Homo sapiens: one gene and its partner. The protein of the gene in region 2 interacts with the protein of the main gene of each other region in a biochemical or structural test. Each region holds a gene or a part of one and is shown on either strand. Other genes may lie near its edges.

Region 1 (3,813 bases), on a different chromosome or scaffold from region 2:
GGATAATTTTTTGTATTTTTAGTAGAAATGGGGTTTCACCATGTTGGCCACGCTGGTCTCGAACTCCTGACCTCAGGTGATCCACCCACCTCACCCTCCCAAAGTGCTGGGATTACAGGGGTGAGCCACTGTGCCTGGCCCATTTTTTAGTTTATTTTTATATTTTATTTTGTTCTATTCTATTTTTTTGTTTTATTTTATTTTATTTGAGATAGCATCTCACTCTGTCGCCCAGGTTGGAGTGCAGCGGCACAATCTTGGCCCACTGCAACCTCTGCCTCCTGAGTTCAAGCAATTCTCCTGCCTCAGCCTCCTGAGTAGCTGGGACTACAGGTGTGCCCCACCACACCGGCTAGTTTTTGTATTTTTGGTAGTGACAGGGTTTCACCACGTTGGCCAGGCTGGCCTTGAACTCTTGACTTTAAGTGATCCGCCTGCCTCGGCCTCCCGAAGTGCTAGGATTACTGGCATGAGCCACCATACCCAGCCCATTTTCATTTTTAGAGACAGGGTCTCACTCTGTCGCCCAGGCTGGAGTCCAGTGATGCAATCATTGTAACCTTGAACTCCTGGGCTCAAGTGATTCTCCCACTTCAGCCTCCTAAGTAGCTGGGACCACAGGCAGACACCACTGCATTTGGCTAAACTCTTAAATTTGTTGTAGAGATGGCGGTGGAGGGGGGTTCTATTTTGCCCAGGCTGGTCTGAAACACCTGACCTCAAGCAATCCTCCTGCCTCAGCCTCCCCAAGTGCTGGAATTACAGGTGTGAGCCACTGCACCCCGCCTGAGGCATCCTTTCGAGACTGGAAACTGAGGCCCAGAGTGGGCCTATCACATGACTGACTTCTAGCATTGAAGTTCCAGCCTGCCACGCATCAGCTGGAAGATCTGTGCAAAAGCGAGCCAGCTTCTCCGGGTCTCAGTTTTCTCATCTGCGGAAAGGGTATGTTGATAACAAGCACCTGTCTGCTGGGGTGTTGGCAGAGTGAGTGAGTTTGTGAATGGAAGATGAGCATAAGCACAGTACCCGGCCTATAGTATAGTTAATGCCAAATATCCTGTCCCCAAAAGCCTTCAGACATCAGGGTGCCCTCCTGGCCTCTATGACCTCTGCGCAGTGAGGACAGGGCGGTACCTGCAGCCCAATGATGTTCCGCCCTTCTCTTAGCTTCCCCGGCTCGAATTTCCGCTCCTGCTTCTCTGCGTACTTCACTCCCACGTTCACCTTGTTTCCTTTCGTCTTCGCCTAGGTGGGGCAGGGAAAGCAGGGACTGACAAGGGGGCCTCCAGGCTGCACAGTCCCCTTGGACACTGTTTTTTTGTTGTTGTTGACACAGAGTCTCGCTCTGTTGCCCAGGCTGGAGTGCAGTGGCGTGATCTCAGCTCACTGCAAGCTCCGCCTCCCGGCTTCACACCATTCTCCTGCATCAGTCTCCCTAGTAGCTGGGACTACAAGCGCCTGCCACCATGCCCGGCTAATTTTGTTTTGTAGTTTTAGTAGAGACAGGGTTTCACCATGTTAGCCAGGATGGTCTCAATCTCCTGACCTTGTGATCCACCTGTCTCGGCCTCCCAAAGTGCTGGGATTACAGGCGTGAGCCACCGTGCCCGGCCAACACTGTTTTTTGTTTTTTGTTTTTTTTTTTTTGAGACGGAGTCTTGGCTCTGTCACCCAGGCTGGGCAGTGGCACGATCTCGGCTCACTGCAGACTCCGCCTCCCGGGTTCAAGCGATTCTCCTGCCTCAGCCTCCTGAGTAGCTGGGATTACAGGCATGCGTCACCACGTCCAGCTAATTTTTGTATTTTTAGTAGAGACGGGATTTCACCATGTTGGCCAGACTGGTCTCAAACTCCCGGCCTCAAGCAATCCGCTCACCTTGGCCTCCCAAAGTGCTGGGATTACAGGTGTGAGCGACCGCGCCCGGCCCCCTTGGACGCTGTTGACAGCACCTGCTCCCCGATCCCTGCCCCCCGCTCCGCCACCTTCACTGGGCTCAGGAGCACAAGTGGCCACACCTGCATCCCAGCCCAGGCTGCCCACCACCCCCTGCCCAGCCTGCAACCACACTCACCATGCTGGCCAAAGCCAGGAGGGTGGACTGCACCTGTGTATGGTTGGTGTTCTCAAACAGGTCGTTGGCCTCAAAAATGTCGTGGGGCTTCACCCCATACTTGGTGATGGCCTTGATGAAGTTGCCGATGTTCTCCAGCTAGAGGGGGGCAGGTGGTGGTCACTGGGTGGGGAGGGGAGGTCTGAGGGGCTTGCGGGCAAGGATGGAAGAGATTGTGTCTGGGCTCACCTGGTGCCAATTTTGGGTTGACTCATTGATCTTCTTCACGGAGCCTGGCTGCAGCTTATTGATGAATCTGAGAAGAGTGGGGAAGGGGTAAGAAAGGTGTCCCCCCAGGGTTGGGCACGGTGGCTCACGCCTGTAATCCCAGCACTTTGGGAGGCCAAGGCGGGTGGATCACGAGGTCAGGAGAGCGAGACTATCCTGGCCAACATGGTGAAACCCCATCTCTACTAAAAATACAAAAATTAGCCAGGCGTGGTGGCACATGCCTGTACTCCCAGCTACTCAGGAGGCTGAGGCAATCACTTGAACCCAGGAGGCGGAGGTTGCAGTGAGCTGAGATTGCAGCACTGCATTCCAGCTTGGGGACAGAGCGAGACTCCGTCTCAAAAAAAAAAAAAAAAGAAAGAAAGGTGTCCCCCACTCCCGCTCTCCAGCCCAGCCCAGCAGGAGGAGGGTGACGGGATGACCACAAGGGGCCATGCCATACCCTAGCGTCACTTCTCCCTGCAGTCAGCTCTCAGCTGCAGCCCCTCCAAACCACCCAAGCACACACACAAATGGGACACTGATGCCAAGGAGCTAGACTCAGGTCCCAGTCAGAAAGCCTGCTTATCCAAGGTGTGTCCGAGTCTCTGGGATCTCCGAAGCCTCACTGGCAGGCGTGTCTCAGCATCCTTTTCTCTTGTAGACAGCAGGAAGCCCACAAGGGCCTCTTCTCTGACTCACTCCTTTAATGATCTCGCCTCTTTTTTCTTTTCTTTTCTTTTTTTTTTCTTTTTGATGCAGGGTGTGGCTTTGTCGCCCAGGCTGGAGAGCAGTGGTGCAATCACAGCTCACTGCAGCCTCAACTTCCCAGGCTCCAGCGATCCTCCCACCTCAGCCTTCCGAGTAGCTGGGATCACAGGTGCGCACCACCATGCCTGGCTTTTTTTTTTTTTTTTTTTTTGGTAGAGAGGGGGTTTCACTGTATTTGTATTGCCCAAGCTGGTCTTGAACTCCTGGGCTCAAGCGATCCTCCTGCCTCAGCCTCCCAAAGCGCTGGGATTACAGGCATGAGTGACAGCACCTGGCCTCATTCAGTGTCTTGACTTTAAGTGCCTCCATATGCCAGCAACTCCCTCATCTCCCTGCAGCTTGGGTTTCTTACCATCTCATTCAGCTCTCTCCATGGGTGCCTGGGTGTCTCAAATCAAACTCACCCTGCTCCAGACTCCTGACATGCAGCTTCCCCCTCCAGACTCCCCCCTCCCTCCACCTTCCCTGCCTAGCAGTGCCCCCTTCTAGGTGCTCAGCCAGAGCCCTTGGACTTGCCCCCAACTCCCCCTTTCTCCTTCTCTCAGCCTCATGTCCAGTCCCTCCAAAGTTCTTTGGCTCTGCCTTTTAATGAGTCCAGAAAACCACCCACTGCTCCCCGCCACCTCCACCTGGGTCTCAGCCACCAGAGTCTGTTTCCTGGCCTCTTGTAATGAGCTCCCAACTTCCACTTCATCCCCTACAGACCCACCCTTCTTCA
Region 2 (3,813 bases):
TGACCTCCTTATCCACCTGCCTTGGCCTCTCAAAGTGCTGGGATTACAGGCGTGAGCCACTGCGCCCGGCCCACTTCCGTAGAGTTCAACACCCTGGCTTTACTTGCCTGTTAAACAAGAGCGTCATCACGGCCACCTCACTCACTGGGGGCCTGAAGTGTGAACTGAGACAAGACTTACCCAGGCTCAGCCATGTAAGACAATAGCAGTACAGCCAGAAATCGGACTCAAGAGTTTCACTCAACTCTTTCCTTCAAGCCACTTTATCATAGGATCCTTACAAAGGAACTTAAATAGTTTAAAATTCAGTGGTTCTAAAATACACACCACATGAAGGCCCAACACAATCCAGTAACCCCTTTTAGAATAACTGGCCTCATTGGAACAGAGCCAAGACAAATTTCCCAAGTGTTTTTGATGTAAGCCTATGATTTTTCTTTGAAGTCAAGGTTAATACAAGAAAAGTATCAAACTCCTAAAAAGAAAAATAATACAAGTACTGTTTTTACTTGGTATCTGTCACTGAAATAAAATGTTGGTTTCTTTGAGAGGCAATGATTTTTTTCCTGTCATAAGAAATTGTTGCTATGAGCCTCAGAACACTTATAAGACTATGATGGTCCATTATACACACTTGCACTGGTGGCTGTTTAAATATTGTGCATGGAAGTGGGAGATGGAATTTACTAATCAGGTAAAATATCCTCATCCACTTTGAATGTATGTTCACTAAGGGGTGGTGGGGTTTTCAGAACACTTAGGAGTTTTCTAGAAATTACAATACACACTTAGGGACCCATGGTAATAGGATAACAAATTTCTCTACACACAGCCCTGTCTTTGTCATTGAACTGTAAGCTGCTCACATCCAGAGAACTCACAGTTCTCTGCACAGAGTATGGGCTCAGTAAGATGAGTAAAACCAACCTAATTTTAATAAAAGCAACGTTCTCAGCTTATGGATCCACAATACAGAGTTGGAAATGCAAATGTAGTTAGAAACTGTGGTCATAGTCTTTAATCAAAGGAATCTGAGAACCTTCAGCTCTTTGCTCACCTAGATTTGTAAGATTTTAAATGCCAAGTTTTATCTGGGAAGAGAGGTGAGTAGGGCATCTCCAACCACGGTGAAGGACTCTATAAAAACATGTAAATACACTTTTATCTTGACAAAAATGTAGTAATTGGTTGATGGAGGCAGGGAGCAGGGCAAATGTGAAATAAATCAGAGGAAGAGCATTTACAACTGTACTGCCTACAAAGTAAATCATTATCAGTGCACAGCTGGTAAATGGACCCAGCTAGGAATTACTGGCAGATGACTGTTGTTTCTGGTGTGTGTGTGTATTGAAGGGTGAGGGTAATAGGATAACAAATCTCTCAATTATAGGGAAGTGTCTTTTAAAAACCATTAGGCTTTTTTTTTTTATTACTATTACTGGAAGGATGTATATATTAAGGATATACTTTTGGGTCAGGTAAGATTTCTTCACTTTTCTATATTTTCATTTTCCAGTAAAATTCTATTCCTTTTGAGGGTGGGGGGGAGACTCAAAGCGGAAGCAAAAACAAAGGGCAAACAAAACAAAACAAAATTTAAAGCCACACAAAAAAACCAAGCACACAAACCAAAAGCCCTACAACAACAAAAAGCCTCCATAGAGTGTCTAGGTTATGTACTCAAAAGCACTGTACACTTTCTTTTCTTTCCCCCTTTCTTATCATTTTCAATATGATGGCAAATATCCTTGTTACAGAGGCTATGGCCTATTAGAGAAATGCCAGCAAGATTTTCAAAACTTTTTTGTAGCTACCAAGTTCCAAGTTCTCTGCTCTGCTTTAGATCTGGGCCTGAACCTCAAGGACTTTGTACTCACAGAAAGACGACTGTTTATGCTTTGGGGAAAGAACCCTCTGGGTGACAGGTCTCTATCCCCAGCTCCCCACACAGCCGAGTCACCAGAAAGGAAGGAAACAGCACCTCATGTTCATTCCAGCCTTGCACATGAGATCTTCCTACCCAAAGGGCCCCTACCAATCCATCCGTGTCTTCCCTCCGATCACCCCCACCCCCATTCTTTCCCTTAGCTCTTGGCACTGTGTTTACAGAATGCTGTTGTCTAAATGCCACTCTTGTTTCCCCAGGGGCATTCTGTAGAACCTCAGACTCCTGGACATCAGAGAATATGTCCTACAGGAATACCAGCCAGCAGGGCTTCATACAGGGTGCCCCAGCAACGACTGGGCATGGAGACCAGTTTCTAGGTGCCAGTTTGTGATATAGTGGGAGGAATGGTAGGGCACACACAGCAGACCTGAGAGTGGCTGCCCCTTCCTGAGGAGGCCCTGTAAATCCAAAAAATAGGGTCTCAATTTTTTAGCTAGAAGGATCCCTAGGCATTGTCCAGATCAGCAATTCCCACAAGTGGCTGAGTGTCAGAATCAACTCAGAGATGAGCATTAAAAAAAAAACTTTCAGCTGGGCGCTGTGGCTCACGCCTGTAATCCCAGCACTTTGGGAGGCCGAGGCGGGCAATCATGAGGTCAGGAGTTCGAGACCAGCCTGACCAACATGGTGAAACCCCGTCTCTACAAAAAACACAAAAATTAGCCAGGCATGGTGGCACATGCCTGTAATCCCAGCTACTCAGGAGGCTGAGGCAGGAGAATTGCTTGAACCCGGGAGGCAGAGACTGCAGTGAGCCGAGATCATGCCACTGCACTCCAGCCTGGGCGACAGAGCAAGACTCTTGTCTCAAAAACAAAAAAAAAAAAAAAAAAATCAAACTTCCAGGCCGTGTCCCTAGAGATTCTGATTCAGGAGGTCAAAGGGGGAGGGCAGGAATCTGTACTATAAATAAACAATCCCCTTTGCCACCACCCAAAGAAGCTGGCTATTCTTCTAGCTCTTGACTAGAAACAGGCGGCAGGAGGGAACTCTGACCCTGGGCACAGAAGTATGTGGAGGCCATACAGCCATCAGTGTGAGACAGGATTAAGATCCAAGTCACTAGGCTCCCAGCATGCCGGCTCTCCACTATGTCACTTCTCCTGGCTTCCCGGAACATCACGGAAACCTTGGAACTGGCAGTTCTCACTCCTGTGTCTTTATCTCTCCTGAGATCAGATTGAGATGTTCTCCGGCCCCCACCCCAACTCCCCACAAAAGGCCTCAGGCACAGATCCTAACCAGGACTGGGAGAACAGTTGCTGCAATGCAAATCATCTGCTAAAGTGATTATCACAATCTTTTTGAAATGAGGCAGGATATAAAATTGAAAACTTCATAAAACAATGCTAATGGGTAATAGGAAGCTCACATAAGGACACGGAACATTTACTCCCTAGCCCAGAAGTCAATGCCTACTGCCCCAGAGGTTTCAGAGCAGGACAGGCAGAGGGGCTTTGAGGTTAAAGCCAGGACCTAGGAGTAGTATCTGAGGTACACCTATCTTTATGGGAAAACCCTGAACCCATGACAGGCTCTGCAGGCCCTATTATACTGGCCTAGTAGAATTTTTGTTTGGCTCGTTAGAATTCAAGATATGCTTAATTTTATAATTTAATCAGGGCCACTTTTTTCTCTTTCTTATTTTTACTTTTTATTCTGATTTATTATGCTCTATGTTCCAAAAGCCCCACACCTCTCACCTTTACTAGCTTTTATTTCTGGTATTTTTTTTTTTAAGTTTTGAGCTTATTTCAATATTTTCTAAGGTTCTTTTCATCATGGCACCTGGGGAGTCTTAAGGACCTGCTGTTGCCTCTGCCGGTACAAGCCCATAGACACATGACCATCTGTTATCTAAAAGC

Evidence for each region.
Region 1: the proteins of TPM1 (region 2) and CNN1 form a complex in vitro, tested with the Homo sapiens proteins (one study listed by BioGRID).

What each region holds. Positions count from the first base shown.
Region 1 is NC_000019.10:11,545,232-11,549,044, reverse strand, and holds part of CNN1 (calponin-1), read right to left. Parts: intron 2,371-3,813; coding exon 2,304-2,370; intron 2,214-2,303; coding exon 2,076-2,213; intron 1,249-2,075; coding exon 1,138-1,248; intron 1-1,137. UniProt on the Homo sapiens protein: Thin filament-associated protein that is implicated in the regulation and modulation of smooth muscle contraction. It is capable of binding to actin, calmodulin and tropomyosin. The interaction of calponin with actin inhibits the actomyosin Mg-ATPase activity.
Region 2 is NC_000015.10:63,052,643-63,056,455, reverse strand, and holds part of TPM1 (tropomyosin alpha-1 chain), read right to left. Parts: intron 1-3,813. UniProt on the Homo sapiens protein: Binds to actin filaments in muscle and non-muscle cells. Plays a central role, in association with the troponin complex, in the calcium dependent regulation of vertebrate striated muscle contraction.